Regions from separate parts of the Homo sapiens genome. Here regions 1, 3 and 4 are each linked to region 2. Evidence: fine-mapped QTL for protein levels in blood plasma. A gene starts in region 2. Each other region holds a variant in brackets. All regions are shown on one strand. Distances are between the middles of the regions. Region 1 overlaps GRK4 (G protein-coupled receptor kinase 4). Region 2 holds the start of LRPAP1 (LDL receptor related protein associated protein 1). Region 3 has its middle 33 kb from the start of LRPAP1. Region 4 overlaps FAM193A (family with sequence similarity 193 member A).

The links. PIP is the chance, under the fine-mapping model, that this variant and not a neighbour inherited with it causes the effect. The UK Biobank Pharma Proteomics Project read protein levels with antibody pairs (Olink). The fine-mapping took linkage between variants from a reference panel, not from the people measured, so its PIPs are less certain.
Region 1: its variant is fine-mapped to the plasma level of the LRPAP1 protein (UK Biobank, PIP above 0.99).
Region 3: its variant is fine-mapped to the plasma level of the LRPAP1 protein (UK Biobank, PIP above 0.99).
Region 4: its variant is fine-mapped to the plasma level of the LRPAP1 protein (UK Biobank, PIP above 0.99).

What each region holds. Positions count from the first base shown.
Region 1 is chr4:3,014,207-3,016,885 of GRCh38, forward strand. The region is part of intron 8 of GRK4 (G protein-coupled receptor kinase 4); the gene reads left to right. Among named protein-coding and RNA genes, the nearest start is that of GRK4, 52 kb to the left of the region's middle. The variant C/G (reference allele first, on the strand shown) is at 1,107.
Region 2 is chr4:3,531,268-3,533,946 of GRCh38, forward strand. LRPAP1 (LDL receptor related protein associated protein 1) reads right to left here and starts at 1,155. Exons shown (of 8, transcript NM_002337.4): 1 at 942-1,155. The coding sequence starts at 1,145. RefSeq lists silencers at 645-894, 1,335-1,394 and an enhancer at 935-1,144.
Region 3 is chr4:3,498,285-3,500,963 of GRCh38, forward strand. It overlaps a transcript of DOK7 not described here. Among named protein-coding and RNA genes, the nearest start is that of LRPAP1, 33 kb to the right of the region's middle. The variant G/A (reference allele first, on the strand shown) is at 1,431.
Region 4 is chr4:2,609,366-2,612,044 of GRCh38, forward strand. The region is part of intron 2 of FAM193A (family with sequence similarity 193 member A); the gene reads left to right. Among named protein-coding and RNA genes, the nearest start is that of FAM193A, 74 kb to the left of the region's middle. The variant A/G (reference allele first, on the strand shown) is at 1,121.

The DNA of each region.
Region 1 (2,679 bases), 520 kb before region 2:
CTGTTTGCTCTCAGCCTCCAGTCAATTTCTCTGGCCCCTGGGACACTGTGACTTGGCTGTGCTTGAGGATACCTTCTCTCTCTCTCTCTCTTTTTTTTTTTTTTTTTTGACACAGGGTTTCGCTCTGTTGTCCAGGCTGGAGCGCAATGGCACGATCTTGGGTCACTGCAGCCTCAACCTTCCAGGCCCAAGTGATCCTCCTACCTCAGCCTCCCAAGCAGCTGGGACCACAGGCACACACCACCATGCCCAACTAGGTTTTAATTTTTTTATTTTTATTCTTATTTTTTAGAGATGAGATCTCTGGCCAGGCGCGGTGGCTCACACCTGTAATCCCACCACTTAGGGAGGCCAAGGAGGGTGGATCACCTGAGGTCAGGAGTTCGAGACCAGCCTGACCAACATGGTGAAATCCCGTCTCTACTAAAAATACAAAAAGAATTAGGTGGGCCTGGTGGCGCGTGCCTGTAGTCCCAGCTACTTGGGATGCTGGTGCAGGAGAATCACTTGAACCTGGGAGGCGGAGGTTGCAGTGAGCTGAGATTGCACCACCGCACTCCAGCCTGGGCAACAGAGCGAGACTCCGTTTCAAAAAAAAGAGAGAGAGATGAGATCTCCCTATGTTGCTCAGGCTGGTCTTGAACTCCTGGGCTCAAGTGATCCACCTGCCTCAGCTTCCCAAAGTGTTGGGATTACAGGTGTGAGCTACCACGTCTGGCTGAGGATACCTTCTCTAGCCCCCTTCTCATGTGGGCCTCCTCCCTCTGGCCTCAATCTGCTTTCCGTCTTTTCCTTTTTCTGGGAAGTTTACCGCTAGGCCCTCAACTAGCATATCCCAATTGTATGAAGCCCAAATACCACCTTCCCACCTTTCTGGAAAGGACAGAACATTGGGCGGACTGGTATGAGCTCAGGGGAGCAGTTCCAGGCTTTACGGTGTGCATTGTATAGTGTGGTTCTCATCTCCAAACCCAGTTTCTCTCTACCTAATTACATATGTCCTGTAGCAGCTACTGAAGTATGAAGACTGGTTGAAGGGAGAGTGTGAACGAGAATTTATAAAATGATTTGTAGTGTTAGAGCTATTTCCTCCAAGCCATTTATTT[C/G]TTAGCCCGGAGGTTAGCTGCTTTGTGCAGGGGGACAAATGTTCCCAGTGTACCTTCACAGCCAGCATCTGAATTTAATAGCACAGTGTGGGGCCGGGCGCGGTGGCTCACGCCTGTAATCCCAGCACTTTGGGAGGCCGAGGCAGGCGTCAGGAGATCGAGACCCTCCTGGCTAACACAGTGAAACCCCATCTCTACTAAAAATACAAAGAATTAGCCAGGCGTGGTGGCAGGCGCCTGTAGTCCCAGCTACTCAGGAGGCTGAGGCAGGAGAATGGCGTGAACCCCGGAGGCGGAGCTTGCAGTGAGCCAAGATCACGCCACTGCACTCCAGCCTGGGCAACAGAGCAAGACTCCATCTCAAAAAAAAAAAAAAAAATAGCACAGTGTGTGTATATGATATGTCACTCTCATGTGCAATTACTTGAAAATCTGTAATAAAATGGGCTTATCTGGGAGTTGCTTTAAACATATTTTTTGGCTGGGCTTGGTGGCTCATGCCTGTCATTTCAGCACTTTGGGAGGCCAAGGTGGGAGGATCACTTGAGCCCAGGAGTTTGAAACCAGCCTGGGCAACATAGGGAGACCCCCATCACCCTATTTTTTTTTTTTTTGATACAGAGTCTCGCACTGTCTCCCGGGCTGGAGTGCAGTGGCGCGATCTTGGCTCACTGCAACATCCGGCTCCCGGGCTCAAGTGATTCTCCTGCCTCAGCCTCCCGAGTAGCTGGTTTTACAGGTGCCCACCACCACACCCAGCTAATTTTTTGTATTATTAGTAGCGACAGGGTTTCACTTTGTTGGCCAGGCTGGTCTCAAACTCCTGACCTTGTGATCTACCCACCTTGGCCTCCCAGAATGCTGGGGATTACAGGTGTGAGCCACCAAGCCTGGCCTCTACAAAAAAAATTTTTTTTAAAAGGCCAGGCACTGTGGCTCACGCCCTGTAATCCCAGCACTTTGGGAGGCCAAGGCCTGCAGATCACCTGAGGTCAGGAGTTCGAGACCAGCCTGGCCAACATGGTGAAACCCTGTCTCTAATAAAATACAAAAATTAGCTGGGTGTGTGGTGGCGAGCACCTGTAATCCAAGCTACTTGGGTGGCTGAGACAGGAGAATTGCTTGAACTCAGAAGACGGAGGTTGCAGTGAGCCCAGATTGCGCCATTGTACTCCAGCCTGTGTACTCCAGCCTGGGTGACAGAGTGAGACTCAATCTCCAAAAAAAAAAAAAAAAAAATTAGCCAGGCATGGTGGTGTGTGACTGTAGTCCCAGCTACTCAGAAGGCTGTGGTGGGAGGATTGCTTGAACCCAGGTGGTCAGGGCTGCAGTGAGCCATTATTGCCCACTGCACTCCAGCCTGGGTGACAGAGTGAGATCCCATCTCAAAAACAAAGCAAAACAAAAAAAAAAATACAAAAAAACAAAACAAAAAAAACCCCCGTGTAACTACCTTGGAACATAGAAATCCACAATCTAGCTTTATGAAAAGAACAGAAACAGTTGTTACAGTTTCTTTTGCTTAAATGCTTTGATTTCTATATCGTTGGCCTCTCCCAAGGAACCTAGAGAC
Region 2 (2,679 bases):
CGTCTGTCTGTCCCCCACCTGTTTCTCCTCTCCCTTTTCGTTCCAAAAGTTCCTTCTTATTCTGCAAATCACTTACTTTCCCTCTCAAAGACTCAGGAATGCTTAAAACTGGACTATTGAGACAGAGATCTAATCTGACTCCTGCATTTGAGATGAGATAATGAGGCCCAGATGGTCGGCATAGTTCGAAAACACCCATTTCAGGTGTTTTCAGGAACACCTAACAAATGAAGCAACCGTATCTTAATGAAGAGAGCAGCTGGCCCAGGGTCACGCACCAATTAGGAAGCTGTTGTCCCGGGGGGCCCCACCGGCCGAGCCACCTTGGGGGTGCCCTTTCCCCTCGGGGCCTCCGTACCCTCATCTCTCAAATGAAGGAGAGGTCAGGTGAGCGCCCTGTTAAGACTGACTTTCAGCATTCCCAAGGTCGCGTTTTATGTGCTCTAAACCGATCCCATCTCCTCACCTCCTCATTTCTCGCTCAAATGAACAAGCACGGGCTTGCTACTGGGATTCCTTCTGTCCCTGGACACGTCTTTCTACCCAACATTTTGTTTTTCTTGTTTCCCCACATAGGGAGATAAGGTTGAGGGAACAGGCAAAGGCTCGGGAGGCAGGAGACCTGTGATCTAGCCTGGTTCTGTCCCTACGCTCGGGTCAGCAGGCCGCCCAGGCTGGGGAGGGCGACACTGACCCTCGGGGTGCCGGCCGCCACCTGCTTCACACGGCGTCGTCGCCGGCACGGGTACCTTTCCTGCTGCAGAAGGGGTCGGGGCGCCCCACCTGACACTTGGGGGAGGCTGTGCCAAGGACAGGGCGCGTAGGGCACAGGTGCCCCGGCTGCGCCCCCCTCCGCCTCCGACCCCTGGGCCCCGCTCCAACGACCCCAACCACGGCCCCCGCCCCCAGGCCCCGCTCCACCGACCGCGGGCCGCGCTCACTCGCTGGGCCTTCTCCCACAGCTGGTTCAACTTCTCCATGCGGAACTCCTCTCCGGACTCGCGTTTCGGGGACGGCTTGGGCTGGTTCTTCTCCCGCGAGTACTTGCCGCCGTGGCTCGCAGCGGGCCAGGGCCCGAGGAAGAGCAGCAGCAGTAGCAGCGCCGGGAGCCCGCGCAGAAACGACCTGACCCTCCGCGGCGCCATCTTCCTCTGCGACTGGCGCTGCGCGGAGAAAACCTAGCCTGCCGATGCCCCGCCCACTACCCCGCCCCCACCCACCGCGCGGTCTCCTGGGAATTGTAGTTCCTCCGTGAGCGGCCGGCAGCGGCGAGGCCGCCGGCGGACTCCAGCGCCTAGGAAGCCCTGCGCAGGCGCAAGCGTTTCCCAGGCAACCACGCCGCGGCCCGAGGCTGCAGACTCTGGCAGGGGATACAACTGGAGAATGAGGGTGGCCGGGTGGGAGCAGGGATCAGGCCTCACCCAGAGCCCGGAGCCTGGAGCCCGCACGACTCGAGGCCTCTTTCCCTCTCTGCCCCACAGAAAGAGCGGAAAGCCCAAGAACCGGGCCGCGTTTGGCTGAGCCTGATAATGCTCCGGCTTCACGCGCACTGACGCCGACTCTTGCATGTCCAGTGCCGTTGCGGGGTTGGCACTGCGGCCCGGGCCTGGCGCTGAGGAGCCTGGCCCAGCCCGCTTCTGCCCTCCGCGGAGCGCCTGGCCGTGGGTAAGCCCAGGCCAGGTTGTCCCGGGGACGCAGGGCCGCGCAGACGTCCCCCTACGTCCCGGGGCCCCTGCCCCAACCCGCGTCCCAAGCGCCTGCTCTCGCGCCTGCTGCAAGGCAGGACTTCGCGCGCTTTTCCCCAACCCATGACACTCTAGGAAATTCACAGAGCCAAAGTTAGCATAGACCGCTCGTTGGGGGCTTGGCCAGTGAGTTGGGAAGTGCCCTGGAGGTAGCGCGGGAAACAAGGGGAAGGAGGGAGACAGACAGCAGCTGGGCCCCTTTGGGCTCAGAGAAGGGACAAGGGGAGCTCATCTGGCAAGAATGATCTGAAAAGGCCTCCAAGGGTGGGCGGGATTTTGCGGGGGGAGGGAGGAATTTCCAACTGGAGGGACAATGACAAAGGGGGTGAATAGAGCCTGGGCATCTTGAGAGGAATTAATGTTAATTCATTTCCTTTTTTTGCGTGGGGGGATAGGGTCTCTGTCATCGAGGCTGGAGTGCAGTGGCATGATCATGGCTCACTGCAGCCTCGACCTCCTGGGCTAAAGCGATCCTCCTGCCTCAGCCTCCCAAGTAGCTGGAACTATAGGTGCGTGTCACCACGCCCAGCTAATTTTTGAAATTTTTTGGTAGAAATTAGGTCTCCCTATGTTGTCCAGGCTGTTCTCCAACTCCTGGGCTCAAGCAACCCTCCCGTCTTGGTCCCCCAAAGTGCTGGGATTACAGGCGTGGGCCACTGGGCCTACCCTAATTTACATTTAAATTGTATCTTGTGTTGTTCCAGAGAAGATTTCAGGTCCCTGGAATCAAGGTGATCTGCTTCTGTCCTGTGCTGCTTTTCTAGTATTTTCAGAGCCATCGTTTCATTTCTTTTTTTCCAGCTGTTGAGTTGTTTCAGGCAAGAGGGTAAATTCAGTCTGTTACTGCATCTTAGCTGGAAGCACAAGTTCCCAATATGGGATGTATGGGGGAGAGGAGGTAAAGGAATCCCCCAGGAGGGTGGTGGAGGGAGAA
Region 3 (2,679 bases), 33 kb before region 2:
AGTGGCCTTGGGGGAGATACAGATACGGACACACTGCTGGCCCAGCGCTGCTTACAGCCCCCGTGTGACTCCGGGTGGTGTTGGGAACATTCGTCCCCTTTCCCTGCAGTCAGGCCTCATGCTCCTTCCTGCTTCCACCCTCACCCCTCACCGCCCAACCTTGGGAGCAAACTTGGAAGAACGGATGCAATCCTAAAACGAGGTACCAGGCTGCAGGGGGGTGTCCAGCCCCACCGTGGGCAAGCCCCGGCCCTGCCCCTTGGCTTCAAGGCCCCCTTTCCAGACGCCAGGCCCCGGCGCTCCCTCAGCTCTCCCCAGGCCCTCACCCCACCTGCCTCTCCCACCACCCCCTCTTGGCCTAGCCCCTCAGCCATGCCCCCTCCTCTAGGCAGCTGGCCCTGCTGGCCCTGTCCCTGCTGGCCCAGGTGCCTGCCTGGGCACCAGAACTTGGCCGCTATGTTCTGTGGCTCATCTCGATGAAGGGGTCCTGGCATTCCGAGGGGACCAGCCCTCTAGGACCACACATTTGCAGGAGGGGGGTCTCCCCAGGGCCTCAGGGCCAGGCAGGGTTGGGGCAGAATTGTGTTGGTTGCTTTAGTTCATGGAATCAGGTGAGCGAACCCTCGTCGACCTGGGCTCCATCTCGCTCTGTCCCAGCTGCTGCCTGCAGAATCAGCGAGTCAGGTCTCCCTGGCCTCAGTTTCCCCACTGGGAGCAAGCAAGTGAAAGTTCCTCACCCCTAGCCCTGCTGCAGGGAGTGACGGGGACAAGGGTGAGAGGAGCCAGGCAGAGTGGATGTCTGCGGCAGGTGCCGGGCAGCGGGTGGCCACAGGAGAACCTGGTCTGCTGAGGATGCATCCCTGGGGCAGGGAGGCCCAGCCTTGAGTCAGGCCCCTCCCCTGGACAGGCAGGTGTTTCAGGGAGGCCGACCCTGCAGGGCTGTCACCCGCTGGATCCCAGCCCCCACCTGAATTCTGAGGGCTCGGAGTGTGCTGGGGGTGGGGAGGTCACTGTGGGTGGGGCTTGGCTGTGTCTCCCAGCCACTGGCTCAGGGAATGGGGGGGGACTTGCTGTCACCTCCCCTGCCTCACGTGGCTGTGCGTTCCCTCACGAGGTCCTGATGACAAGAATGGGAGGAGGCACTGGAGAACGGGGTCCTTCCTGTAGAACCTGGGTGCCCACGGTGCGGAGCCCTCAGGCCTGCAGAGGAGGGGCCGGTGTGCGTCCAACCCCCTAAGGTGGGAGCCTGCCTCAAGTCCCACCCAGCCGGGCCTGTGGGGTCCCCTCCTATCCTGCTCCTGCTCTGCCCTCCCCAGCACCAATGGGGTGTGCAGACAGAACCATCAGCTATTAGGAAGGGGGTCGGGGGAAGGGAGTAGCTCCTATGAGGGGGGAGAGGGTGTGGGGCACCTGGGTGTCCTGGAGGGGAT[G/A]CAGAGGGAGCGTGGGCCTGTGTGCAGGAGAGGAGGGGGTCCCTGGAGCCTGCAGCAGGTGGGGGTGACCCCGGAGGACAGTGAGGGGGAGGTGCTGGGGGCCAGGACAAAGCAGGGCTGTGCTGGCCCGGGAGGGTTAGGTAGAGAAGGTGCTGGGACAGCCAAGGAGGGGCGGTTGGTGGAGAGAGTTGGGAAGGTGCGGGGCGAGGGGCGCAGGGACAGAAGAGTGGGCCTTGGGGGGCCCATGGGGGGGTCGGCAATTCCTGCAGGGGAGGCGGCACAGTGGAGGGGACAGCGCTTCCTTCTGCTCTGTGGGTACTTGGACCAGGAGTGGACAGTGTGGGGGGGGCCTCAGGATGGGGCAGCGCTGGGCCAAAGATGGACGGTCAGGAACATGGAGCGGGAACTTCCAAGGTGCAGGAGAGGCGGAGTGGGGAGGAGGGGCTAGGCAGGGTGGGCAGCTCTTTACTGCACAATCTTTGAGATCTGTGCCCCTCTCGGTCCCCACCGGGGCTTCACAGCCGCTCCCCCCACAGGATCCCCAGGACCCGTGGCTGTGGACAGCCCAGGACCAGAGAGGCCGCGCGGCGAGTCGCCCACTTACGTGAACATCCCCGTCAGCCCATCCTCCAGAAAGCAGCTGCACTACATGGGCCTGGAGCTCCAGGAGGCCAGCGAGGGTGTCCGAGGTGGGTCCCCGCCCTGCGTGGAGGCACTGACAATTGGGGGCTGGGACCACAGCCTCAGGGCCCTGAGCCCCCAGCCCCACCCAGCAGCCCTTGGCCAGGGAGCTTTTCCTACAGCCTCCCCCCAGGAGGCAAATGTCCCCAACTCCATCCCTGGCCAGGCCACATCCCCTGAGGGTGTCCCCACTCAGATGCTTCCGAGGGCCTGGCTGGGGGACTGGTGTGGAGGGCAGGGTCACAGGGCTGGGTGGCTCGGGGCGCAGGCTGCCGCTCACTACAGAATTCTTTCAGGGGCTGGCGCCTCCCTCTACGCCCAGATCGACATCATGGCCACCGAGACGGCGCACAGAGTGGGGGTGCGGCACGCACGGGCCCGGGAGGAGCAGCTGTCGGAGCTGGAGCAGAGGAAGGCAGCCCCGCAGTGAGGTCACAGCGCCAGGAGCTGACCGCAAACCCGGTGCGCTGTGCGGCCCCGTGGCCCCCGGCAGGCCAGCCCCTTCTGTTGGGCGTGGTCTGGTCCCCAGGGAGCTCCCAGTCGCAGGAGCAGGCATGGCCGGTCTCCG
Region 4 (2,679 bases), 920 kb before region 2:
TTTAAAGGGCCCTGAACTCAAGCATCCTGTCATAAAGAAGACTACTCGGCAAGTAGTCTTAAGTTTCTATCTATTTTTCTGTTTTCAAGGCTGTTTTAGACTCCATTTTGATTATGGGCATTAGCAGTTGTCTTTATTCTCATATATCATATTATTAAAATGTAAGTTGCATTTTACACTAAGGAACTGGGTTCTCCAATAGTTATTATGCCCATAGATTAATCAAGGCATATAGTCCCAACTTAAGCCATTTAAGAGTTTGCTGGCGTAGGCCACCGTGCACGGCGGCCTAGGCCGATCACGCCTGTAATCCCGGCACTTTGGGAGGCCGAGGCGGGTGGATCATGAGGTCAGGAGATCGAGACCATCCTGGCTAACACGGTGAAACCCCGTCTCTACTAAAAATATAAAAAATCAGCTGGGTGTGGTGTTGTGCATCTGTAGTCCCAGCTACTCAGGAGGCTGAGGCAGGAGAATCCCTCTAACCCGGGAGGCTGAGGTTTCAGTGAGCTGAGATGGCGCTACAGCACTCCAGCCTAATGACAGAGCGAGACTCCGTCTTAAAAAAAAAAAAAGAGTTTGCTGGCTGGGCGCAGTGGCTCACTCCTGTAATCCCAGCATTTTGGGAGGCCGAGGCAGATGGGTCACCTGAGGTCAGGAGATTGAGACCAGCCTGGCCAACATGATGAAACCCCATCTCTACTAAAAATACAAAAATTAGTTGGGCTTGGTTGCGGGTGCCTGTAATCCCAGCTACTCAGGAGGCTGAGGCAGGAGAATCGCTTGAACCAGAGAGTTGGAGGTTGCAGTGAGCCGAGATCACGCCACTAAACTCCAGCCTGGCGACAGAGCGAGACTCTGTCTCAAAAACAAAACAAAACAAAAAAAACTCGCTAGTATTTGTCATTATCTTGAATTGTTACCCAATGGTTACTACGCCCATAGATCAATCAAGGCATATAGTCCCAACTTAAACCAGCCATTTAAGAGTTTGCTAGTATTGGTCCTTACCTTGAATGCTTGCCCTGTTGGGTTTTAGGTCATATTAGAAACGTACAGATTTCTTTGCAGTGAACTTCATGAAAGTAGTTGCTAATGTAATTTGTTGGAACTACTCAAA[A/G]TTGCCAGATTGACTTGAGTTAGCCTTACAGAAAGATAAGCTGAGTGGTGATCTTTGGCTTTTTTCCTTTAGCATAATGCTTTTGAGAGTCATCTCTGTTGTTGCATGTAGCAATAGTTAATTCCTTTTATTTCTGGGTAATAATCCATTGTATGGATAAACCACAATTTGTTTATCCATTCATCAATAGAGAGACGTTTGTATTTTCCAGTTTGGGCTGTTATGAGTAGAGCTACTAGGAACATTTGAGTATCAGTCTTTTTTTTTTTGAGATGGAGTTTCGCTCTTGTCACCCAGGCTGGAGTGCAATGGCGCGATCTCGGCTCACCGCAGCCTCCGCCTCCCAAGTTCAAGCGATTCTCCTGCCTCAGTCTCCCAAGTAGCTGAGATTACAGGCATGCACCACCACGCCCAGCTAGTTGTGTATTTTTAGTAGAGACAGGGTTTCTCCATGTTGGTCAGGCTGGTCTCAAACTTACAACCTCAGGTGATCCACTCGCCTCCGCCTCCCAAAGTGCTGGGATTACAGGCATGAGCCACCGTGCCCGGCCGAGTATCAGTCTTTTAAGTGGATGCAATTTACTTCTCTTTGATAAACACCTGGGAGTGGAATTGCTGAGTCCTATAGGGTAAGTGCTTATACTGTTCTGCAGCCACGTATGAGAGGTCCAGTTGATCTTTATCTTTGCCAAGTGCTGGATATTGGCAGTCTTTACTTACAGCCATTCTAGTGGTTTGTAGTGTTATCCTTCATTATGGTTTTAATCTGCATTTTCTATTTATTTATTTATTTATTTATTTGAGACAGAGTCTCACTGTGTCACCCAGGCTGGAGTGCAGTGGCTCAATCTCGGCTCACTGCAGCCTCCACCTCCCAGGTTCAAGCAGTTCTCTTGTCTCAGCCTCCCATGTAGCTGGGACTACAGGCGCCAGCCACCATGCATAGTTAATTTTTTTTTTGTATTTTTAGTGGAAACGGGGTTTCACCATGTTGGTCAGTCTGGTCTTGAACTCCCGACCTCAGGTGATCCACCCGCCTCAGCCTACCAAAGTGCTGGGATTACAGGCGTGAGCCACCACGCCCGGCTTAATCTGCATTTTCTTAACGACTTGTTGAGCATCTTTTCATGTACCTATTTTCCATTTGTATCTCTTTGGAAAAGTGGCTGTTCAGATCTTCTGCTCATTTTTATTGAGTTGTCTTAATGAGTTGTGAGATATTTTTATATAATCTCAATACAAGCCCTTTATTAGACAGGCTTCACAAACATTTTCTCTCAGCGTGTGACTGGCATTTTCATTATACAGCACTGTCCTCTGAAGAGCAAAAGATTTATATTTTGATCAAATCCATTTTTTTTTTTTTTTTGAGACAGTCTCTCGCTCTTTTGTCCAGGCCGGAGTGCAGTGGCACTATCTCGGCTCACTGCAAGCTCCGCCTCCCGGGTTCACACCATTCTCCTGCCTCAGCCTCCCAAGTAGCTGGGACTACAGGCGCCCACCACCATGCCCGGCTAATTTTTTGTATTTTTAGTAGAGACAGGATTTCACCGTGTTAG